7 linked regions of the Homo sapiens genome follow. The protein of the gene in region 1 interacts with the protein of each later gene in a biochemical or structural test. Each region holds a gene or a part of one and is shown on either strand. Other genes may lie near its edges. The genes, in order: DOCK4, SIPA1L3, SNTG1, SNTB2, PDZD2, MAGIX and MPP4.

Region 1 (3,500 bases):
ATCTTTTATGCTCTGTAGGCTTAGTCCACAAAACCTAATACTACAGGGAGAGAGGTGGCCACAGAAGAGAGAGAAGAATTACTTGAAGCTGATCTGTAAGGAAATAAAGAATAAGTCAAGTTCTCAATGTGACTCTGGGTGTTTGTAGATACTAGAAGTGAGCAGTTGAGGTCATCCATTACTTAGGATTATGCAATGACTTTAACCTTCATTGATTTTTAAAGATCTGTGTTTTACCTCTTATGAATGGTTCACTCCACCCCAGGACTGTATCTGCTGGATTCAGCCTGACTGAATTATTTCCCCAGAATTAAATGGTAGCTCAGGGTCAAGAAGACTGCCAAGAAAAATAAAACCAGGGAACCTTTATTTCTTCTACGTCCTGCTTATGTTCCTGAAACCTTGTGGAAAGAGCCATGGCCTAGAAAATGTGAGATCTCTGTTATAAGACAAGCAGTGCACGTGACTGTCAATGTGCCCTTGGCCAAGTCTCATCATCTCTGTGGGGAGGTGGACTGGAGAGGGCACCATCCTTCTCTGGACCTCTGCAAAGTAGTTCAGATAAACTCTCTAGAGGACAGAGACATGCACCACCCCAGTGCTCCTTCCAGGACAGACTTACTCTGCCTCAGCTGCAGGAAATGTGGCTCTCAACAGACATCTCCAGCTGTCAGGCCCTTCAGGGATTGCCTCCACTGCAGAGAGCCACTTGGCCCAAGGTTGCTACCTTCTCAGTGGTGCACATCCCATACTGAGGAAGCAATAGAAAGCCTGGCCATTTGGGACCAACACAGGACAACTTTGACAGACCATTAAAGGTCCAGAGGTTGAGGTAGGAGTATCATCTGACACCAGGAGTTCAAGACTAGCCTGGGCAACATAGCAAGACCCCATCTCTACAAAAACCTAAAAACTAGCTGGGTGTGGTGGTGCATGCCTGTAGGCCCAGCTACTTGGGAGGCTGAGGTGGGAGGATCACCTTAGCCCAGGAGTTCGAGGTTGCAGTGAGCTATGATCACACCACTGCATTCCTTCCTGGGCAGCAGAGTGAGACTCTGTCTCTAAAAAGATTAAAATACAGATAAATTTTTAAGAACATTCCAGAGGTCCCTTGGGTTTGGCAGTAGCTGACAGGACTGCTGTGCAGCTCAACTTCTTTTCTTGTCAAGTCCGGCTTCTGTCCCTCCCCCTGACAGGCATCAATCCCAAGGTACACCCTGATAAACATTATGAAATCCATGCTGGAGTCTACTTCCCAGAGAACCCAACTTGCAACATTCTGTGAACAAAAGGGAAGTCACCCAACGCTAGTGTTTAAAATGGAGAAGACTGGGGGCCTCTGCGTTTAGATCCACCTCCTACATCCCTTCCATGTCCTCATCACAGATGTAGCCTCTCCCTTTATGCCTCATACACACTGCACTCCAAGTGTGCCTTTCAAAGGCATCCTTGATATTTGTTATGCAAATATGCTGGCAGTGGGCAGCATCCAGAGCCCCGTCCCTTAGGGAAGGTGCTGGATGCCCCAACCCGCCAGGGTCAGTCCTGTTTGACCTGAGCTTTCAACCTAAAATCTTCACGAGCTGCAAAGATTAAAAATAGCAACAATAACAACAAAACCTTGTGGTGATATAGGATTCGTTTTCCTCCCAGTCTATGGAATTTGTCCTTTTGACCATGTTAGCATGGGGGGCATTTTTAAAATACAAAAGACAGCTGCTGCTCGAATCAAAGGAATCACACACTGTTGATGGTTGCACAAAGGAAGGTTGAATGTTTACCTTCATCTCTTCGGATCCTCACTGCAGGAAAGTTTTTTAAGTAGGACCTGCTCTCTCGTTGAATTATAAGTGAATATGAATAATGTTTTTTGGGATTTTTTTCTTTTTTCTTTTTTTTTTCTTTTTGGAGACAGAGTCTAGCTCTGTCACCTAGGCTGAAATGCAGTGGCATGATCTTGGCTCACTACAACCTCCACCTCCCGGATTCAAGCAATCCTCCTGCCTCAGCCACTCGAGTAGTTGGAACTACAGGCACGTGCCACCACACCTGGCTAATTTTTGTATTTTTAGTAGAGACAGCGTTTCACTGTGTTGTCCAGGCTGGTCTTGAACTCCTGACCTTGTGATCAACCCGCCTTGGCCTCCCAAAGTGCTGGGATTACAGGCGTGAGCCACCGCGCCTGGCCAGGAATAATCTTTTTAAACAAAAACAAGAAGCATGGAAACTGTCATAGAATTCCTTTTTGTTTTGTTTTTTCCATCCTCCCTGGCAGATTCTGAAAGTCTGTGGGAGGGATGGATGAGCACAGAGGAACCTAGTGGGAGAGGGAAATGTGGGGGGAGAGGGTGCCATGCAAAGAAGAGATCTTTAAGGGAGAATTGCCGGCCCTCTTAACAGTGAGCAGCACATGCCCCTATTCCTTCTCCACCCTGGGGAGAGAAGGAAGGGGCCAAAAGGACACATAACTGTTACGAGGCATTATAATTATAGATCTAAAATACATGGGAAAGAAGCCTGGGGGAGTAGGAAAATTAAGTCTGAAATCAGAACCAAGTTCTAATCCCCATTTGTCTTTTATCCATGCAGGATTTTTCAGATCCTCAGTTTTTCTTCACCTGTAAAGTGACAGCTGTTCCTACCTTGTCAGAGGCAGAGGATTAGCAATAATGCAAGCGAAATGCGTAGTAAAGTGCTCGGCCCATAGCAGGCACTTAGTGAGAGGTAGTCATTGATGTGAGGTTTTTTCCTTATGTTGTGAATTAAGGCACAGATTCTGGAATTTGGTTTGGCCGTGCATGAGAAGTTTGTACCTCAAGATATGAGACCCCTTCACAAAAAGCTGGTTGACCAATTCTTTGTGATGAAGTCGAGCTTAGGGATACAGGTATGTATACTTAGGTGTCCATGGCGGGGCAGCCTGATCACTGCCGTTTGCTTGTTAAAGGGATGATGATGTATCCAATAGTGACATCTTGTGGTTTTTCTACCAAACTGCACTGTTTTACCAGGGAGCCCTCAAATACAATTGCCTTGTCTGCTATTTGCGAGGCTTTCCTTTTGGGAAAACACAAATGTAAGTGAGGGAAAGCCAAATAATACTGGAACTTGCTTTAATAGCTCCCTATGTGAAGACTTGATGGCAATTAGGATGTGTGCCTAGTATGCTAACCTGTCTCATAAGTTATTTTGCCCAAATCATTACTGTAATGAGATATTTCCTTTACTACATCTTTAGGAGTTCTCTGCTTGTATGCAAGCCAGTCCTGTCCATTTTCCTAATGGAAGCCCTCGTGTGTGTAGAAACTCAGCACCTGCTTCTGTGAGCCCAGATGGTACCAGGGTAATTCCTAGACGCAGGTAAGTCATATTCCAAATTATCTTACAATTTGGCCTCACCCGCAAGCTGATCTGGAATGGTTCTCTCATTCTTTATGGCACAATTTGTCAAATACGCTATTTCTTAATGAAATAACTAACCCGCGAGGCAGCTGCAGACC
Region 2 (2,331 bases), on another chromosome or scaffold:
CCTCTTCCTGGGACCAGCCCTTCGAAGCTGATGGGGACGGAGAGAGGAGCCAGTCTCCAGACGCCTCGGCTCCAGGAGGTCACACAGCAGGTTTCTGCACCACGCACAACAAAGTTGCGGCTTGTGGGGCCGAGGCCCCTGCATGAAAAGTACAGCGTGAAAGCAACCCTTTCTTCCCCACACCCAGAGAGGTGAGGCCCGCGTGGACACAGACCAGGGCGCCTCGGTCCCTAGCACGTGAGCTCCAAAAAGCACGAACATGATCCCCTCCCTAACCCCCTCCTCCCAAAAAGCAGCCAGGAGCACTTTCTTAGAGTTTAAATTATTTTCTTGGGGGCCTGAGGATAGAGAGAGGCAAGGCTAGCCTCCAGAGCCGATTTATTTGAGAGAGAAACTCTATTTGGATCTCCAGGACGGTTTATACGATCTTTTTCTATCAGCTCCTCTTCCGCCAGAGGCCACTGCACCTGGGCTAGGGGTCCACAGGCCCCTCCACCTTCCAGCTAACCAGGCCAGGCCGGGGCGGTGGAGCCACCACACAGCCGACTCTCTCCTCCTCCTCCCGGCACGACCTGGCCCTGACCAGCAGCCTCGGCCTCTTCTGGGTTCCAGGAGGGGCTCCCGAAGCCCTCAGGACAGGGCTGGAGGAGAACAGCCTTCATCTCCTCCTCTGGTTTTTTTTTCCTTTGCAAGTCTCCCAGCCCATCTCTCCGAGCAGCGGCCACCAGACCCCCTCACCATGCTCCCCGGGGAGCACTGCACCCCGCGAACCCCACTGGACGCTGGTTCTCTAAAGGCAATAAGGGGCGGCCATGCCGGTGTGGTACCACGCTGTTCCTCCAGGAAACCGTTTCTTTTTTTCCTTCTTTAAAAGCAAACAGAAAAAGATATATATATATATATATATATATTTATTTTTTCATGTAGAGTTGGCGCCAGAACAAGCCTGTATGGCCACAGTCTGTGGATTCATCCCCCCAACCTCAAGCTGAGGACCAAGGCGTGTCCCCTGTGGGCTGGGGGTCAGTGGGAGGACCAGAGGGATGAAGTCAGGGCAGGCCGGTGCCCTTTTTGGGAGGCACCAGGCGGGGAGGAGTTGGCGGAGCAGGTCTGGCTGTGAGCCAGCACCAGGCAACCCGGCCCTTGTCCAGGGACCTCTGCTGCCTTCTCTCTGGGGTCAGGAACCTCAGAGGAGGGGGCTCTGGGGACTGCATAGGACGCAGGCACTCGGAGGTGCCGGTGTGGATGGGTGGGGGTGAGAGAAGAGGGTTCTTATCGCGTCTCCTGTGATCAGCCTCTGGCCCCCTGGAGGAGGAAACCTCAGCGCTGCCCCTGCCCCCACCCTCACCCCCAACACCAAGAGTGAGGTGGGCGTGCCCCAGGCAGCGTCCTCAGCCCTGGCCAGCTACTGTGATGCCATCTTCTCCCCCATCCCCTTCTCTGGGGGGCCCACCCGTCCCCCACCCCCACCCCTTAGACCCTCATCGGGTCCCTTTTTTTTTTTTTTTTTCAGTTGTCTCCTCCCATCTTCAGATCATTCGAATCATTTTGGGGACTTAATCATGTACATGGACAAGTGTAAATTATGATTTTTGGTTTTGTTTTCTGTTATTTTTTAAGGATTTCTGCAAAAACAGATCTATTTAATTTGAGGTTGATGTTCTATCCAATGGCCGAAGATAGCAGCAGGTTTTTTTTTTCATATGTTGATTTGTTTCATTTGGATTTTTTTTTTATTATTCTTTATTGTCTTTTTTTTTTCCCCATCCCTGTCTTGAGATTTTCTGGCATGTTTCTGGAGGTTTCAAAGGAAATAAAGGTTTCATAGAAATGGCTTGTGTGTTCACTTTTGGGGCAGCTGCCTGGAGTTGCTGACCAGAGGGTGTGGTCCAGCATCGGCCCCTCCTCCTGCTCCTGTCCCCAAATCCCCCACACCATGACCACCACACACATGTCCTAAGAACCAGGGGCACCTGCCTTGCTAACTTCTTTTCCTTGGAATCCAAAGGACAGAAATCCAACACTCAGAATGTGAAATGTCCTTAAGTTCAAAAGAGTGAGATTCTGCCTCAGAGGTCATATACTGGAGGCCTGAAGGCCAGCCCCAGCCCAGAGGGTTGTGTTGGGTCTTAGAAATAGTGGCCAACTTTTAATCTGGACATTCAGCCAGGTGCAGTGGCTCATGCCTGTAATCCCAGCACTTTTTGAGAGGCTGAGGCAGGAGGATTGCTTGAGCCTAGGAATTCAAAACCAGCCTGGACAACATAGCAAGATCCTACCTCTAAAAAAACCTTTTTTTTTTTTTTTTTAACTTTTTTTCGAAACAGAAAC
Region 3 (3,500 bases), on another chromosome or scaffold:
ACACCTTGATCTTCTCATCCAGACCACAGTGCTTTACCTACCATCTATGTGCTGACAGAAGCTGAACTTCTATTCTGAACTCTAATTTTTCCCTTAAATCCACACTAATATATGCAGTTCTCCACTTATCACCTATATGTCTAATATGCGTTCAGATGTAACATGCCCAAAACCAAAATCTTGATCTTTACTTCCAAACCTGCTTTTCCCATAATTTCTCCATTTGCAGAGCAACACGTTTTTTCCAGTTATTGAAATCTACTTTCAAATTCAACCCCTTTCCATATAGAAAACTTTGTAACTTCTCCTTCTTTCAATCCAATTCTCATAAAGCTCATTCTCAATAGTCTAACCAGAATCATCATTTTCTGACTTTTGTCAATGCCTGTCACTCCTCTGCTCAAAAATTTCCCATGGTTTCCCATGTCGCTCATAGTAAAACTCATAAAGGCTCATGCAGCATGCAAAGTGTTTTCTTTGATCTCATTGTCTGCCAAGTACTTCTTAATTCATTCCATTCCACACAAAATAACCCTTGCTTTTCTTCTGACTCTCCTGGAATGTCCCTATCTCTGGGCCTTTAAAATTATAATTCTTGTGTCTGGAATATTTCCCCACAAACATGGAAATGGCTCACTCCATCTTCCCTTTCAAGTTCCATATACAAGGCAACATGAATTTTCCTTCCCACGGCCCTTTGAGTAGTCTTTGCTGTCTCCTCCGCTTTATTTCTTGATGGTAACTGTCATATTCTGACATATTGTCCTTAATTTATTTCTGCCCTTAGTCACATTTTGCCTCCTGTCACTGGAAAGTAACTCCCATCAGGACTGTTTTGTTCCTTTGTTTGTTTTTGTCTGTTTTATTCACTGCTATCTTTTAACAACAACAAAAAAGAGTAGATGCATAGGAAGCATTTGGTATTTTATTGAATGGCTGACTCTTTACATTTTTGAAGATAGCTTATATTTAGTGATATCTGAGGGATCATGATGATCATAAGACTTTTTTTACAAGGGAAACTTGTAAGTCTGTGACTTGGTGGAAGCTGTCGGTGGATGGATAGATAGATGTTCATCATCAGTGGATGTTTGATAGGTGGTAAGAATGCAGGTCTAGTACTCACATAAGAAATTAGTAAATGAGCAGTGTGAGTTTACATAAAAGGAATCGTTGACACCCTAGGAGTGGAAATGGTTGCCAAGGCTGATCACTGAGGCAGAGGAAAGATGTGTGGGCATTGTAATGAAGAGTCAAACTTGGATCCATCTTGGTCTCCTGCTTTCTCTTCTAATCACCTGCTATTATTTCCCGTCTACCATTACTTCAAAATGGGTATAAAAAGTTTAAAGTGTCAATCTATATCAAATTATTGATAAATAATTGACAAGGTGGGAGTAATTGAAAATTTTTATTTTTCTAAAGATGCCTGGATACTTAGATATTTAAGGGTTGTTTATTTTTGGTAACCAAAATATAACCTCTATTTTAATAAAGAGATGGCAGAATTACCTTTGAGAAAAAGTTATTTGCCATACTATTTTCACCCAATTGTAACACTCAACTATATTCTCCTCCTTACCAAGAATGAATTGCTTATTTTTGTTGTTGTTGTTTTATTTTTTAATAACATGCAAGAACATTTTACATTTTCCCAAAATTTCCAAACCTTTCACATTAGGTGGATTTAATTTGGGAAGATAGAGAAAGTATTTAAAATGTGTTTGGGAAATAAACTGGCTACACCAAGCATTATGGGGTGAATGGAGGATTTCCAGGGTGAGTTAAGGCAAAGAGAAACTTGCTTATTTACAAATAACATGACTAGTGCCACTGAAGCAGATTATTATAAATAAAGCTTCTAAGATCATTATGATGGAGTTACTAAAAACTTTTTTGGTGGAAATATCTAAGGGAATTAGAATAGTTAAATGAATAACCTCTTCTATTCTCTAGGACAAGTTGCTATTTCACAAAGGAAACTATCAAATATTGAAGGTTTCAAGGGAGCTACTGAGAAAGCATAGCTATGTCTTCTATATTATAGGGACACCTGAATATATATTATGGGGTATCGTACTCCTGTTGCATGACCTGAGAAAATACTCCTCGGATGAATTATTTTATTTAAATAGCTGTCTGGTACACGACAGATATTACAATGTGTCATAAAGTATTGAATATTTTGTAATATTTTCCACTGCCACATGTAAGTTGTAAACACAGTCATGTACATATCAATTATAATTCTAAATTCTTTATTACATATATGTAGTGAAATATATAATAAAATAGCAATGAGTTTGTCAGAAATTTCATATGCTTTATTACCCTCTAGTTACCCTCCTTGTGATAAGTTCATCGTATTGATTTCATTAAGCACACAAATGTATTAGTCTTTCAATCATCTTGAAATTAAGACATGTTTATGTGATTATTGATGGTCTTTAATAATAATACTAGCAACATCATCTTTCTAAATGTATTCTGAGCATAGCTTTAAGATTTTATAGTTATTTTGACAAAATTATGGTTTGAAATAACTTTTTCTGTTTTCACTGCAATATATATAGTTTGGTTGCCACTGGTAATAAATGGGTTACAAATTTCCTTTGGTATTTAAATGAGAAACCTATTTCTAAAAATCCAAAATGAATTAGTGAGCTCTAGTTTATTTTTTTTTTTTTTAGTAAATATGCCACATAAACCATTAAACAGCCAGCCACAATTAAAATTAATGCAGGAATTATTTTTTGAAAGTGAACCATTTGGCTCCTCTGGTTATAAGAGTTCATATCCCCTTACTTCTAGCATTTCTTATTCAGTTTCTTATGGCAAATATTAACTCATTCTAGAGAATACTCAAGAATAGTTTTAAATTGCCCTAATCCATATTTATCATCTGATGTGTGCACAAAGAGATAAAAATACTTTTAAAAGTACTTCCAAGTTTATCTTTAATTGTACATTATCAAGAGTAAAATTTTGGCAAAATATATTTATCAATCAGTGCTAAAAGAACATTCATAGATGGTAAGAGTGATTAGTCCTCCTACCTCTTATCCACCATGTATTGAAATAAATTTTCACTACTTACGATGTTTACACGTTGACCAAAAATGTCTACATTTGAAATTAGTTTCCACATGTTACATATCATAGATTCTAGATAAGTGTATTGAAATTGAAAAAAAATCTAGCTATTATAAATTTTTAAAGACATTAATTTTTATGTTATCTGACCTGTTTCTCTTTCCCTTTCAGGAGTTGGAATTTTCTAATTTATTTGCTGTTCTTCACTGCATTCATTCCTTCTTTGCTGCCAAGGTAGCTTGTTTGGACCCTCTATTTTTAGGCAATCAAGCTACTGCTTCTACTGCTGCCAGCTCTGCTACCACGAGCAAAGCAAAGTATACAACTTGACATACTGAACTCTTCATTGACACACCCCATGACTGTATAAGCAGGACACATTTACTCATCATTTTAGACCCTAGAGA
Region 4 (3,500 bases), on another chromosome or scaffold:
ACCGTGGAACAGCTACCTGCTTTTGGTTAAGATTGCCAGATATCATTAGGACACAGTAGCAGCAAGAATGCTGATTTTGTAGTGTTAGAAAATGAACTCAGCTTGTTTTTCCTAATTTTGAAGGTGGTATATATCTGCAAACATTTAAAATGGTATAATATCATATAAAATGTCAAAATTAGCACAGTCCCTGGATCTCAAAGAATAGGTAATATTGACTTGGATGTTCTTTATGCTCTCTGAAGAAAGGTCTAGGGAAAGTTCTTGTTTGCTTGATTGATCAAGAGTGCCACGGAAGAATGTGAGCGCTGTGGAGGGTGGAGGAGGGTGTCACTTCAGATGGGGCAGGCACAGGGGGAGAAAAGAAGAGAAAAACACACCTGTGTGCAAAATGAGCTATTTGGTTTCAGTGCGGCCTGACCGATGGGGAGGACCCATGAGCAGAGAGAGTTCTAGGTCAACATTGTAACTCCATTGTCCTCCTTCACCCATAAGTCAGTCCTCCTTCCTCATTACAGTGAAACCAACAATATGCAGAGGTTGGGGAGAGATGCCTGTTCTTCCCCCAGCTTCATATAATTGTCAAAGTTCCAAAAATGAATTATCTGAACTGCTTAAAACTGGAAATTAAAATCTAGACAAGAATATGTCTTTCAAGAGCTTTTTATGTTTTGAAAGTTCATAAACCTAAGATTGGCTCCATCTGAGATAAATTTTCTTTTCTTTTTTTTTTTGAGACGGAGTCTCGTTCTGTCTCCCAGGCTGGAGTGCAGTGGCATGATCTCGGCTCACTGCAACCTCCACCTCCTAGGTTCAAGTGATTCTCCTGAGTAGCTGGGGTTATAGCTACCCACCACCACACCCAGCTAATTTTTGTATTTTTAGTAGAGGCAGGTTTTCACCATGTTGGCTAGGCTGGTCTTGAACTCCCGACCTCAAGTGATCCACCTGCCTTGGCCTCCCAAAGTGCTGGGATTATAGGTGTGAGCCCCCGTGCCTGGCCCACAATAAATTTTCATTTCAGAGAAGGAAAAAAATCTCTTGAACGTCCAGAAATGATTTCTGGAATCAGAATTTCAATATGTAATACCCTCAGGTAGGCAATCTTGAACCCTCTATGCAGTGAGAGCATTATTAATATGAGATGTTGAATGATGCCTTTACAGACTTCAGCAGCAAAGCCATTTGGTTGAGGTTTTCTGTGTTAATGTGAAAAGCTAAGCCACTGAGATTTGCAGGGGAGCTTCTGAGCCACCCTGCTTGTTGGTTATATGAGGATGTAAAATAGGTGGAATTAAAATGTGAGCAGGAAAGGCAAGGCATGTGTGCATTTTCACTCATTTTGGTCAAGGTTAAACTGACATGTATAGCACTGAGGTCTGTAGGGTTCTTAATATCTTTTGAGTCTTGCTGTGAAATGAAAGTGTGGGAGGTTTCCTTTGTCCATTAGCAGCCCCAAGAACCAGAACCCTTTTGCTGCTTTTCTTACATACCTAACAGCTCTCCAGTCATGATGACCAAGGTTGTTCTTCAATCAAATGTGTTTGTGGGATTTTCAGTCCGCAAATGAAGTGCTCTCTAATGAATGGGACACCATGATAAATATGTATTTATATTTAGATGCCAAAGTATGGCAAATTATTTCCAAATGATAACTACAAATGGGAATTTTCGATATTCTACCTTTTTTATAGAACCAGCTCACTTTTCATTTCTTTTTCATTTTGAATTAAGAAAATTGTTGAGGATGTGGTGGGTTCCAGTGTGTGGAATGGAAAGGAAACTGCAGAATAGTGTCTGCTCCCCATTCAGAGGGACTGCTTCCTGTGCCCCCCAGACCCGGGGCTTCGACAGCTTCTCCACATTCCACACAGATGCCTAGGAGCAGCGAGTTGGTATATGAAAAGTCTCCCACCTTTTCTCCTAAAACTTCTCTCCTTTCTCTCCATAAAAAGAAAAGGAAAGGAACAAAAGAAAAACATTCAGTTTTTCTTTTTCTGAAAAAGGTAAGTCCTTTCCTGAAGTCATCAAATGAAACATTATCTGGAAATTAGTTTCTAATGTTGTATATGAAGAAATACTTAAATATAAGTTCCTGCAGTATTTATTAGATAGTTGTAACTGTAAACTCACCTCCCTAGTAGATAAGAGTTTCAGGTTAAATACTGGAACATATATAGGCAGTCAAAAATACTACTTTAAATGTCATTCACCTATTTTAAAGCCATGTTTTAGCACTTTTTAGGCCAAAGAAGGTCTGATAGTGCCTGTTTTTATGTTCTGTACTCTCACAAACTTTGTTACTCAAAATTATTGCATGGCAGGAGAGATTGGATTATTTATTTCTTATATTTTTATAAGTAAAAAAATCTTTCTAAACAACAAATACCTAACATTATTACTGATTGTTTTCCTAATTTATCCTCCTAAGTTGAATGGTAACAAAGCTTTTCCAGCTGAATGAATGCACTTAGCTGATAAACCAGAATTTGTTCTTTTTTTTCCTTCTTTTTTTTTTGAGACAGGTTCTCACTCTGTCACCGAGGTTGGAGTGCAGTGGTATGATCATAGCTGACTGCAGCCTCAACCTTCTGGGCTCAAATGATCCTTTCACCTCAGCCTCCTGAGTAGCTGGGACCACAGGTGTGTGCCACCACACCTGGCTAATTTTTATGGATTTTTTTTTCTTTTTTTTTTTTCGCCATGTTGCCCAGGCTGGTCTTGAACTCTTGGCACTCAAGCAGTCCTTCTGCCTCAGCCTCCCAAAGTGCTGGGATTACAGATGTGAGCCACTGCACCTGGCCCCAGAAATTATGCTTAAAAAAAAAATTAAGCTGTGTGGAATCTGGACAAGGCTATGTTTCTCCTAGAAACAGGTTTTGCTGTAAATGGTTTTGATGGGCGAAAGTGTGAGAAAAGGTTATAATAGATTCTTTTTTTTAATTTTGTGAGAAATTCCAGGTCTTCTTGCTTAACTTATATGCATGTGGATATATTTGTTTTCAAAGCCATGGAAGAATCTCTGTTCATATATTTTAATGCAAATTACCTTGTATGCTGCTATGCAAATTCTATTAAAAGGCCTACCTGCTTAAGAATTAAACATTTTTGAAACTTTCAGGGAAGACCTGTAGACTCAAGCACTTTCTCTGCTTTTTTGTATCTTATCTTGGACACTTATGCTGAATTATGTTCTTATTATTTTCACTGGTTATAAGCTATTCCTTGTACATAATATTTAAACTATCCAAATATCCAGCATACATTTCCATGTGGCTGCCATCGGCTGTTGATGCCATGAATGAAATGGCTGGTTAGAAAGCCAAAGGTCTTCTTTTTTCAATTCCTAATGAATAAGTAAAATGCCAGATCTCTTTGGTCTCAAAGCAAATTGCTCTGATCAGATCAAATATCTATGTAATGAAAAGAGACTTACTTAAATTTGGGATTCTGCTTAAACTTTAAGTTGAATTTGACTGTAGTCATTCATTCTTTTTATA
Region 5 (3,500 bases), on another chromosome or scaffold:
GGATGTTCAATTGTAAGAAAGATTTAGAGGTGGAAAAGTTTTGGATTGTGTCAAGATTGTGAGTGTGGCCTGGAAAAGGGTGGCTAATTTGAGTTCTATTGCCTTTGTACCTCTGATGCATTTAGGTGACAATAAACATTTCTCATCTCAATATTACTCTATTATTAACAAACAAACAGCCAAAAGAGAAAAAAAAAATCAAGTAGTAAGCAGAGTGTTTATTTTTTTTAAAATTACTTAAAAAAGGTTGTTTACAGAGATGTGGATTTATATAACTTGGTGACAACATTTTTAAAATGTACAGGCTATTTCATATTATTGCACTTACTCTTTAATATATAAGGCATTTTACTTTACATAAATAAAGGTTAATGTATAATATCATACAAAGTTATGGTGCCAATTAAGTCAACCATCAAATTCAATGAGATGTGTGGGAAGATGGAAATGAAACCCAGCCTACTTTAATCTTCATGGTATATTCTTGCAACTACGGTTTACTTGTTATAACACATATTTATTTACCCTCATAGCTTATTGTGAATGACTGACCAGTTAAAAAAAAAGAAACAATGACAGTTTTAGTAGGACAATACCATTAGTGTTCACTTCAGAAAGTGTGGGAATTTATTAGGCTAATTAGAAATACTAGTCATGCCTTGAACACTGAAGACAAATAAATAGCTTTCTATCTATCTTAGGGTCAAAGACAGTTTAGCTTTTGCTTCTTCCCTTAAATTTCAACTGTTTGTTGGCGAGGGAAACCTTCTGGCAAGATGTAGTAGCAGTGGCTGATGACTTTAGCATAGTGTATGTGGTAAGCCAGAGGTCTACCCTTGTACTCCAGATATGAGGATTAAAAAGACTTGCGGAAGGAGACCATTCCATTTGCTCCACATTGCACAAGAAATTCCTGTCTGTTCACATAGGGCTGTGCGTTTATTAATTAATTATTATTAGGCACAGCTGTAAGAGTGGAGGCGAAAAGCAGTTTTCAGTGTTGTTGACTTGAAATAGTCTTTGATTTAGGCAAGAAAGCAGAAACCACAAAACTGACCCCAGAGACTGAAAAACAATCAATCAATATCTATCAATCAAGCATGCACCTTGCACTGACTTCCTACAGTATTCTACCTGTAACTGTAGTGAAAAGTAGAAGTAAAATCAATAAGACCTTTCTAACTAACTCCTGTACCATATTTTCCTTTGTATTGCCAGTTGATGAGAAATCTGGACTCAGACAAGCCAGCTATTTCTCTCTCATCTGAAGGACCTCTCTAGGCCGACTTCAAAGATGTTTAGTGGGATTGGTCATTCAGAAAAATGATGATGTACAAAGCTGATGGCTAAAGCCCCTCCATGAATCTGGGGGTCACAGCCATAGACCCAAGCTGTAGGTTATTTAAAGAAGTATCTCCAACATAAAATCTTAGTGTCATGCACACAGGTATGGCAAATGCACTCTCCACTCATGTTGTCAGGGCTCAACGGGTTGGTTTGTGCCACTGAAGACGACCTGGCTTGTAACTACATTTCTGCTCCTTTACCTTGACTCACCCTGTTTCTCCTCCTCTTTATGACCCGATGAGAGTTTGGAATTATTTACCTAAGAAAATAAGGTACATCATGAGGAGAGAAAAGCCAGCTATGTGACGACGAACGGAATATCCAATCGGAATAGCTACTGGGAAGCAGCTCATGCCACCAGAGGAGGAGTGGCCAGAGTGAGTTTCCCAAGTAGCGTGAGTCACGACAGTCTTCTGTAGGAAAACATTTTTGGCAAAAGGAGGAAATTGCAAAGCGGGAAAACGAAAACAGCAAAAACTTAAGTCACTGCAGTTGTCATTATACTAGGTCAAGAAAAGAGATCCAATACTTAGAATGTTACATTTCTTAAACATGTTGGGAAAGAGGGAAAAAAACCAACCAGTCTCCTAAAAGGATTCCATTAAGCTCCTCTATTTGGATTGTACATACATTGTCTATAAATCCAAGGACACTTAGAAAGATACTTGATTTCTAAAAATTTAGTTTAAATTCATGGTTGGAGTGCATAAAATTCAGAAATGGAAACCCAGTGACTGACTGACTTGTGATATTTTTGTCTGCTCTTGGACTGACCAGTCTTGAATTCAAGCACTTATCAAGACAGGTTCAAAAACTAGTTGTAAGGTGCTTTTAGATGTTGACCTTTCTGCTCCCTCTAAGCAGTGAAGCTCATGGCTATTTAATACAGCTTATCAGAAGTGCTATTCTGTAAAACAGCCTTATGGCTTACACTTTTGAGATAGAAAATGATCAATACTTCATGGTGATCAATAACCTATTGAGTTGAACTTTGCATACGTACATTATACATTACACTCACTAAAAAATACTCTCAATTAATTATTTTGCTTTTTCCTTTTTGGACAATTCCTGAGCTCAGCCTAACAGGTCATAATTCATTTTTTTAAGTAAGTCTTATTCTCTTTTCAGGGTAACATATACAGACCTACATCTCCTCCTTCCATTGAATGTGCCTAAAAGCATTCTGTCATTTACTTACAAAATCATACAAAATGATTGATTGTCCTCTTAGGTGTGACATTTGTGTCCCCCTCAGACTTTTAGTTCCCTGATCACCAGGATTGGGTATGTTGGGAGAGCTGGCAAGAAGGAAGCAAAGGTCTAGCTAAATGTTTGTTTGTTTCAAATAAAGAAGGGTGTGTCACATCTTGTATCCCCATCAGTAAACATAACATAAAGGTAGGGGACAGGCACTGGAACGAAGGAACCCTCCCGGCCTGGGTGACGCAGGTGGAAGGCTTCTGGAGTTAATTTCATTGCTGTTGCACATACAGTTAAGTCAGGCTTCATGTGTAAGCACAAGCTTGGAGATTTTTATAGTCCGTGTCTGTACCAGTGTTGGCCATTTCAACAACCTGTGGTTTAAAGAAGTCACTCTGATTTGCTAAAGAAAGAAGAGAACTGAGAAAATGATTCTTGTTAAAATTCATGAAGAATTCCTATGCTTTCTAATTAATAACTGCACAGGTCCTTCTGGGACAGACTTCATAATATTCCAGGCATCAAAGTGCATGAGCCCAACCAGAGGTTTCCCATTAATAGCAAGAATTTCATCTCCAGCTTCTATTATTCCAGCTTGTTCAGCCGCACCACCTACGAGAATAAACACAGAATAATTAATAGCTTGGCAGTTTCATAGTATTCAAAAATCCTAAGTAAACTAAAAACTTTTAAGTGATAAAAATATCTAAATAATATATTATTGAATAGAGAAATATTTCTTAGAACACAAAAAGCATATATCCATAAAAGTAAACTGGTCTACAGAAAACAGTGCAACTCTAGCCCTCCTGCCGCCCCTCCAAACATAATCTGTAAGATAAAAATAAACTGACAAGGGGAAGATACTCTCTATGTATTTAATCAACAAATGGTTAACATCCAGACTAAAGAGCTACAAGTCAACAAGAATAACACAAAATAAAGTTGGG
Region 6 (4,196 bases), on another chromosome or scaffold:
GTGTCCACCCATAAATATATATATATATATATATTTGTTGTTGTTGTTGTTGTTGTTTTGTTTTTTTGAGAGAAGTCTCGCTCTTATCCCCCAGGTTTGAGTGCAATGGCTCGATCTCCACTCACTGCAACCTCTGCCTCCCGGGCTCAAATGATTCTCCTGCCTCTGCCTCCCAAGTAGCTGGGATTAAGTCACCTGACACCACGCCTGGCTAATTTTTGTATATTTTAGTAGAGATGGGGTTTCACCATGTTCGCCAGGCTGGTCTTGAACTCCTGAACTCAGGTGATCCACCCGCCTTGGCCTCCCAAGGTGCTGGGATTACAGGCGTGAGCCACTGTGCCCAGCCATAAATATATATGTTAAAGCTCTAACCTCCAATGTGACTGTATCTGAAGATAGCTTCTTTAGGAGGCAACTAAGGTAAAATGAGGTCACTAAGGTGGAGCCCTAACCAGATAGGACTGTGACCTTATAAGAAACAGAAGAGAGAGATCTCTCCCTCTCTCTGTGTGTGCCTCTCTCACGCCTTTACTCTCCTTCACTCTCTTAATTCCATGTGAGGACACAGCAAGAAGGCAAGCATCTGCAACCCAAAAGGAGAGACCTCACCAGGAACCAAATTGGCTACCACCTTGATCGTGGACTTTCCGGCTTCCAGAACTGTGAGAAACTTATGTTGTTTAAACCACCCAGTCTACGATATTTTGTTACAGTAGTTCTAAATGAATAAGACAGGAAATAAAGCTGCTATGAATATTTGTAAGACAAGGCTGTGTAAATGTATGCTTTCTTTTAGATAAATACGCAGGAGTGGAATGGCTGGCTCATATGTGTACGCTTAGTTTTTAAAGACACTACCAAACTGTTTTCTAAAGTTGCAGGCCGGGCACGAGTGGCTCACGCCTGTAATCCCAGCACTTTGGGAGGCTGAGGCGGGCCTCGCCTGTAATCCCAGCACTTTAGGGAGTTCGAGACCAGCCTGACCAACATGGAGAAACCCCGTCTCTACTAAAAATACAAAATTAGGGGGGCGTGGTGGTGCATGCCTGTAATCCCAGCTACTCAGGAGGCTGAGTCAGGAGAATCACTTGAACCCGGGAGGCAGAGGTTGTAGTGAGCCGAGATCGTGCCATTGCACTTCAGCCTGGGCAACAAGAGCGAAACCCTGTCTCTAAATAAATAAATAAAGTTGCAATATCATTTTACATTTCCACCGGAGGTATAGGAGTTCCATTTCCTCCATATCTTCAGCAACAGTTGGTATTGTCAGGCTTTTAAATTCTAACTAGGACCTTTAGTTAACAGAGTGCGGCGCCTGCAGCAGAGTGAGGCCAAGCACTCCTCCTGGCTCCTACAGCCAGGCCTCCTTGCTGGCCGCCAGGTAGGTCACCGCGCGGGTCCGGGAGCCAGGCACGGGACCCGCCAGCTTCAGCCTCCAGGGCCTGGGCGGGCCGCCAGGTGAGCGCGCCCCAGAGCTCAAAATTCGTAGCTGGCAGCCCTGCGTCCACCCGGCGGACTACTGGCCATGGAGCCGCGCACAGGGGACGCCGCGGACCCTAGGGGGAGCAGAGGAGGTACAGGGATTGGGGTCGTTGGGGAAGGACAGGGCGAGTCGCCGCCATCCCCGTCCCGCCTGTCTGCTCCACACCTTTTCCTTCTGACAGGTGGTAAACAGAGCGGCTCTGGCGCCCAAGTGAAGGTGGCAGGGGGCAGGGGCCCAGCGATGGAGGCTGGGCTGGAGGTCCCCTACCCACACCCACACACGAGGGAAAGGGCCGCGCACCAGAGCAGGGGAGGGGCTCTCAGGAGTCTCCAGGGAGACGTGCAGATGTGCGGGGAGGGGTCTGCCCGTGGTCACTGGGGACACCTGGGCACTCAGGGTCTTAGTGAACTGGGGGGAGGGGAGCTGGGGGCCCCTGGGGACCTGTGGAGGGGGACTCTGGAGGTATGTGGGCCATGGGGGGAACGGGCCCTCTGAGGGAATTCATGGGGGTAGCAGCGGTTGCCTAGGATACTTAGACGGGGAATTGGGGGTTCCGGGGCTATGGGGTCAGGCCGTGTTCTCCCAGGATATCTGGGGAAATGGGGTCCCCTGAGATATCGCGGGCGAAGAGTTGGGCATCCAGGGTGATTAGGGGGCAGTCGAGGACCTCACGGGGTGTTCGGAGGTGTCTAGGACTATTGCAGTCAAACAGCGATCTCCAGGGACACCGTGGGAGCAAGCGGGGGTGCACCGGCTACCCGCGACGGTCGGGGATCGCGTGAGGGGAGGGACAGCAGTGACCTCCGAAACTATCGAGGGAGTGGCCAGGGGTCGCCGGGTATCCTGAGGGGCATTTCTAGGTCTTCGAGCGTCCGGAAGCATAGGGGTTGGCCGAGGCCGAGGGTCGGCGTTGACCTGTCCCCTCTTGCGCGCAGGCCGCGGCCCCTCCCCGCTCGCGGGCCCTAGCGCCCGGCAGCTCCTGGCGCGGTTGGACGCGCGCCCCCTGGCGGCGCGAGCTGCGGTCGACGTGGCAGCGCTGGTACGCAGGGCGGGCGCCACATTGCGCCTGCGCCGGAAGGAGGGTGAGTGACTGGCGCAGGGCCTCCGCTGGGGGAGGGTTCGGAGAGGAGTTGGGTTCAGTGGGACAGGCCTGGGGGGTCAGCAGCTACTGCCCTGTCTTGGGTGGGGCCAAGGGGCGCGACTTGGGGCGGGGATCGGAGGGTGCTTCGAGTGGGAGGAGCCTTGGGGTTATTCTAGCATATTCCTTGAGGGTTATTGCAGTCGGCGAGGGCTAGATTAGATGAGAGTGCGGAACTGGACCCCCGTTCTGGCGGCGGTCCTTTTTGAGGAGGCAGGGCCTGGAGAGTGCTTGGGGGGCGGGCACGCAGCGAAGGGGCAGGCCTGAAATGTGAGTCACGGGGGTGGAGCCTATAGTCCCATGGGGGCGGGGCTTGAGATGTCAGGAATGGGATGAGGGTTAGAGGCTAATTAGAGGGCGTGCTATGGAAGGTTCAGGAGCCAAATTTTGGAGTAGCATTCTCCAGGGTGGGCCGAATGGTGTTGTTTGAGGGATGTGTTCTGCGTGTTATTAGAGGGAGATAGGAAGGCCTGGAAGATTATTCACATGGCTGAGCCCAGGATTGTTTATTAAGAAGGTGGGGTCAGAACAGTTAATTTGTTTGGGCTGAGAACCTTTAAGATTACTTGAGGGGATGGTGCGTAAATGGTGGGCCAGTTTGTATATGAGCTGCAGGGGCAAGACAAGTAGATGAGGCTAGAATGTTAACTCAGGGAACAGGTCCTAGGTAGTTTCCATGGCATGTCCCCCAACAGCCCTCTCCACTGCTTTTATCTCCCAGCTGTTAGCGTGCTGGACTCTGCGGACATAGAGGTCACAGACAGTCGCCTGCCTCATGCCACTATTGTGGATCACCGGCCCCAGGTACCATCTCATCCTTCTATCGGAGGCCTCCTGCCTCAGGGCAAACTATGTACACCTGTGTCCTTTATTCCAGCACCGTTGGTTAGAGACATGTAACGCACCTCCCCAATTGATCCAGGGTAAGGCACGTAGTGCTCCGAAGCCATCCCAGGCCTCTGGTCATTTCTCTGTGGAGCTGGTTCGCGGTTACGCAGGCTTTGGCCTCACCTTAGGTGGGGGCCGGGATGTAGCTGGGGACACTCCGCTGGCCGTGCGCGGGCTGCTGAAGGATGGCCCAGCACAGCGCTGTGGTCGTTTGGAGGTGAGCCCTGAAGCCCCTTCCACTGGTAGGTGCTATCCCTGCCTTTGTTGGGGTGCTCTCCTTTTGCCTTTCCAACACGACTGCATTGCACTCCTCCAGGTCGGGGACCTCGTGCTCCACATCAACGGAGAGTCAACGCAGGGCCTCACCCATGCCCAGGCCGTGGAGCGGATCCGAGCTGGAGGCCCCCAGCTCCACCTGGTTATTCGTCGGCCTCTGGAGACCCACCCTGGCAAGCCTCGAGGGGTGGGAGAGCCCCGAAAAGGAGTTGGTGGGTTTCCCAAGGGAGAGAAGTCAGAGATCAGTGAGGAGAAGGGAGAGGTTCACAGAGTGGAGAAGCTGAGATTCTGGGTGGGAAGGGTTTGGTGGTCTCTGTGGGGAGGGTCTGCAAGAGGTCATGGTATTCTCACAAGTAGGGGCAGGGAGGGGTACAGGGTCCCAGGATAGGAATAACGTAGGGGCAGGGA
Region 7 (4,257 bases), on another chromosome or scaffold:
TTGGAAGGGGACCAACCCTTAAAAATCCGTTTATGTTAAATACTTTGCATTTACATTGGAGATTGTTTTGAGTTTCTGAACAAACACATAAATAACCACATTTGCCTGGTAAAGCCAAATTTACAGAATTTCTGACTCTGGGCGGGGGTGGATAATATGTGGAAATGGACAAACAAAAACTTTGAGACAAATTGACCCATTGAGAAGATTTCCAATGATGATAGGCTGTCTCTGTTCTAAGAAAAGCCATGTTACAATTCGTCCTTTTACTGGAGTCTTGAATGAAACTGTTCAGTTACTTTGGATTCTTCCTACTATATGCTTTTCAGATAGCATATTAAAGTTATAAATTTTGAAGTGTATTGGAAGAAAAACCCTAAATCTCCAGGCCAATGTTTGTAAATAGAAGTCCTTGGCACTCCTGCAGCAGTTTACAATGGTCATTCACATGCGTAATGAATGCTTACAGCAGCCCAAGGATGCAGGTGTTATCCCCATTTCCCCCCATTTTTCAGACAAGCAGTGACCAAGATTTGCTCACTGCCAGAGCTGGGACTCCAGCCTAGAACTTCCCTACTCCCTACTTCCCTAGAAGTCCAGTGCTTTTTGCTACTACAGCTGCCAGAGATGTCATTTCATAGCTGGTTATGTATTGAAAGTTCTTAAAAGTGAGTTAAAAATGAAAATCTTATTGAAATCAAGTGCTTTTCACAAAATATGCTGTACTCAAAACACAAATGTATCACATTCCCAACTTGTGTTTTCATCTATGATGGAGAGATAAGGAAAGCCATGTGATTAATATGGGTAGAAGGGCTGAGGACCCTCTGATAATTGCCATTTGGTCTCTACCTTTTGCCTTGCTGTCAGCAATACCTTCCTCTCCTTTCTGCAATATCCCCTTCCAAATGCTCTCCCCACTGAGCACTCCCTGCAGTATTAAGTTTTCAGATAAAGAAGTAGCTCCTATCTGAGACAGAAAGCACTATTTGTTAGGTTCAGAACAGTGGCTTGGGAGGGGATTGACCAGAAGGTACTGTTTTTGATGGGTTTCTATTATTAGCTGAACAGTCTTCAGTTGTTTTCTCACCATAACATGAGAGATTTAATAAGGTTAGTAGGTTATTGGCTTATTTCCGGTCCTGCCACATTTTTTTCTTTCATTAAAAATGCTATCTTCTGTTGTGGAATGTCTGTCATCTTGAACTAATCAACAAAAATACTATGTTTTTCTGCCGTTAACTATGTGTTGGCAATTTGAGAGAAAATACTAGAATGTAGGTTTGAAAATGATACAAATTAGACTTCAAGGAATACTTAAGAAGATTTGTGGCAGGAAAGGCTTGTGAGTAATTTAGTTGTTAGGCTGGGTTAGGCATCTGTGGATTACATCAAAGAGGATGTGCAGAGATTTTATCGGGAGCAGTGAGGTGACTTTGGCAGCTAACAGGCCACTAGTATCCTACTAAAGCTTTTGTCTGGATAGGAGCAACATGCATGTTTACAGTCTTGCAGGTAAGAGACCTTGGCAAATAATCCTCAGTTACCAGAAGATGTATCCATAACTGCCTAGCTTGCCTGTCAGTTTTTAATAGCTAAAGATATAAATCTGGGTAATCTAACTCAAATGGCTTAGTTTCATTTTAACTCAAATGATATGGGGAATTTTATGATCTTGAAAGAGCAGGTTTTGCTTCGAGAAGCCATTTCTTCAGTATGGAATAATGAGTTGTCAGGAAGATTGAGTACAATGGGCATTTGCCCTGGTCCTAATCAACAGCATTTGGACCCAGAGGAAGCCAGCTATTTTTGTAAGGGCCATTTCTCATCATTAAGTTTCCAAGTGCTTTTTTAGGGTTTGTCTAGTAAAAAGCACTATTTTGAAAAACAAGCATAGTAAGGGTAGGGGGTTGTGGCATTTAATAGTACGTTTTAAAAAGCTAATGGAAATACTTTTAAAACAAGATTTAGGACAAATTCCTTAGGCATCAGTCACACTAATGCATCTTCTGAGTCAAGAACTGGCTATCCTTTCTGTGTACTCAGTCCGGAATTGCATGTGGTGGGTGCTTACTTATTTGCAGTCTCAATCAAGAATTCTCACTCTCAAGATAGCAGAAATAGATAAGCTTCAACTGACAAATTTGGTACAGAAGTCATGGAAAGGAAGGTAAGTCTTTTGCCAGGCATCATGCCAGGCATCAGCATCTTTCAGGACTAAGGAAACAAAAGAGGAAAACTCGATTTTACTACATGTTAACTCTACTGAATACCTCCTTGAATGTCAGATTCCTTATCTGTAAAACAAAGGTTTTGCATTTGATTATCTCTAAGATCCGCTTCTGCCCCCAGTTTTAAAGTTTGATAGGGAAAGAGGTTTAAGTCAGGATACCAGGCCAGGGAGGAAAGGAAGGGAGGGCACAGGCCTCTGGAGTTCAGCTGCCTCCCCCATTAGGATTGAAGTCCCAGCTGCTGGCTACTGCCTTGAGGGAGGTATCAGCCTTTTACTTCTGGATCTTGGCCTCTCCTTGTTCTACCCCTTCCCAACAACAACTGAACATACCAAGTGCTTGCTATGGCCCAAGCACTGTTGCAGGTGAAGCTGCAGCATGAACAAGATAAGCAACATCTCTGCTCCCCAGGCCCTCTGCAGACATGACACCTGCGGGAGACAGACACTGAGCAAGCCAGTGGATACAAGAACTGGGAAAATGAGAAGTGCTATGAGGGCAAGAAGTTGCAACTGTTTTCTTAGCTACCTGGAGGGAGGGAAAATCATTTTCTGGAAGTTTTTTTCTATGAGTTTTGTCTTAGCTTTGGCTGTCATAACAAAGTACCATAGACAGTGGCTTAAACAACAGAAATGTATTTTCTCATACAGTTCTGGAGGCTGGAAGTTGAAGATTGGGATGCCAGCATGGTTGGGTTCTTGCGAGGGTTCTCTTCCTGGCTTTCAGATGGCCGCGTTTTCACTGTGCCATCATCTGGCAGGGAGAGAGAGAACACATGAACTCTGATGGCTCTTACCCAGACGCTAATGACATCTTGAGGCCTCTACCTCATGACCTTAACCCAGTTACCTCCCAAAGGCCCCATCTTCAAATGCCATCAACAATGGGGATTAGGGCTTCAACATCTGAATTGGGGGTGGGGACACAACATTCAGTCCACCATAAATTTGTCATAGGAACCTGAAGATGAGGAGCCAAGCACAGTTTTTAGAATTTGCATAAGTTGTAGATTACTGTAATTATTGTTTTTGCCTCTATGGCTGAGAAACTTTGGGTCAAAACGAGCCTTTTAGAATGTATGAATTAGTTATCTAGGTAGCCCTGAAGTTGGCTCTAGATTTATTAGAAGCTATTTTAACCATTGCATTCACTCAAGAAACCACCGCCTATCTGTGAAGCACAGTCTATCTGTAAAGCTCCCTCACAATAAATTCATCTCAGAAATATGTAGTCTCTAGTGTGTGCCCCCAACTGCTGAATGGGTAGGCCTAGCTCAGCACAGTCATTCGGGCATTAAATATGGCAGAAATGTGGTCCACCTCATGACGTGCAAACAACAGTTGGCTTGTTTAATCTGCACTGCTTTGCCAAGGACGTGTGATTTGTGAGGTGCTGGAGGGGAACCAATTTTAAGAGTCAGCCTGAGTGTCAGCCTCATCTGTCTGCTCTGACTTTTGTCTGCTCTCTAGCAGGCACTCCATCTCCCTTTTCAATTTTCTACCCTGGAAGTGCTCCCCTCCAGGGAGGAAGATGAGTCAGATATGCAGCTGTGATGCTAAATGATTCAATAGAGTCAAAAACAACACAGAACACAGGAAAACGCATTGTTTAATCTGACTCAATTACAAGTGGGCAAGGTAGGTGATGGAGGGCAAGTCAAAAGCATAACGATGTCAAGCTTTGGTAGAACCTAGCAAACCGGAAGACTTCAGGGTGTTTGGAAAGGAATGTGTAGGGGAAAGTTGTCTAAAATGCTGTAACAGCTTTCTGTGTTGCTCTTCTCACTGCCTTAGAATTTAGAGTCAAAATAATAATGATCTTTTCTTCTTTTAGATAGCCTTCCTGGCTTCAACCCACAATCAGTCTAGATTCTAGACAGTGGTTCTCAACCCTATCAGAGTCAATACTCCAGTCTTTAACAACTAATTTGAAGTGTTCCTTTTATAACAAAAACCTTAATGTATTCTTTATTGTCCTACTATAACAATGTTGTTGGTCCCTACCCCCACCGCATACCCCTTGGTTG

What was found.
Region 2: the proteins of DOCK4 (region 1) and SIPA1L3 interact in a test that uses a peptide from one of them, tested with the Homo sapiens proteins (one large-scale study listed by IntAct).
Region 3: the proteins of DOCK4 (region 1) and SNTG1 interact in a test that uses a peptide from one of them, tested with the Homo sapiens proteins (one large-scale study listed by IntAct).
Region 4: the proteins of DOCK4 (region 1) and SNTB2 interact in a test that uses a peptide from one of them, tested with the Homo sapiens proteins (one large-scale study listed by IntAct).
Region 5: the proteins of DOCK4 (region 1) and PDZD2 interact in a test that uses a peptide from one of them, tested with the Homo sapiens proteins (one large-scale study listed by IntAct).
Region 6: the proteins of DOCK4 (region 1) and MAGIX interact in a test that uses a peptide from one of them, tested with the Homo sapiens proteins (one large-scale study listed by IntAct).
Region 7: the proteins of DOCK4 (region 1) and MPP4 interact in a test that uses a peptide from one of them, tested with the Homo sapiens proteins (one large-scale study listed by IntAct).

What each region holds. Positions count from the first base shown.
Region 1 is NC_000007.14:111,741,400-111,744,899, reverse strand, and holds part of DOCK4 (dedicator of cytokinesis protein 4), read left to right. Parts: intron 1-2,767; coding exon 2,768-2,887; intron 2,888-3,238; coding exon 3,239-3,360; intron 3,361-3,500. UniProt on the Homo sapiens protein: Functions as a guanine nucleotide exchange factor (GEF) that promotes the exchange of GDP to GTP, converting inactive GDP-bound small GTPases into their active GTP-bound form. Involved in regulation of adherens junction between cells.
Region 2 is NC_000019.10:38,206,539-38,208,869, forward strand, and holds the end of SIPA1L3 (signal-induced proliferation-associated 1-like protein 3), read left to right. Parts: 3' UTR 1-1,831; downstream 1,832-2,331. UniProt on the Homo sapiens protein: Plays a critical role in epithelial cell morphogenesis, polarity, adhesion and cytoskeletal organization in the lens.
Region 3 is NC_000008.11:50,789,407-50,792,906, forward strand, and holds part of SNTG1 (gamma-1-syntrophin), read left to right. Parts: intron 1-3,264; coding exon 3,265-3,423; 3' UTR 3,424-3,500. UniProt on the Homo sapiens protein: Adapter protein that binds to and probably organizes the subcellular localization of a variety of proteins. May link various receptors to the actin cytoskeleton and the dystrophin glycoprotein complex.
Region 4 is NC_000016.10:69,302,164-69,305,663, forward strand, and holds part of SNTB2 (beta-2-syntrophin), read left to right. Parts: 3' UTR 1-3,500. UniProt on the Homo sapiens protein: Adapter protein that binds to and probably organizes the subcellular localization of a variety of membrane proteins. May link various receptors to the actin cytoskeleton and the dystrophin glycoprotein complex.
Region 5 is NC_000005.10:32,107,631-32,111,130, reverse strand, and holds the end of PDZD2 (PDZ domain-containing protein 2), read right to left. Parts: exon of another isoform or gene 3,163-3,500; coding exon 2,996-3,162; 3' UTR 199-2,995; downstream 1-198.
Region 6 is NC_000023.11:49,161,362-49,165,557, forward strand, and holds the start of MAGIX (PDZ domain-containing protein MAGIX), read left to right. Parts: upstream 1-1,396; 5' UTR 1,397-1,528; coding exon 1,529-1,577; intron 1,578-2,421; coding exon 2,422-2,568; intron 2,569-3,345; coding exon 3,346-3,428; coding exon of another isoform or gene 3,429-3,501; coding exon 3,502-3,729; intron 3,730-3,828; coding exon 3,829-4,000; intron 4,001-4,196.
Region 7 is NC_000002.12:201,695,845-201,700,101, reverse strand, and holds the start of MPP4 (MAGUK p55 subfamily member 4), read left to right. Parts: upstream 1-1,457; 5' UTR 1,458-1,515; intron 1,516-4,257.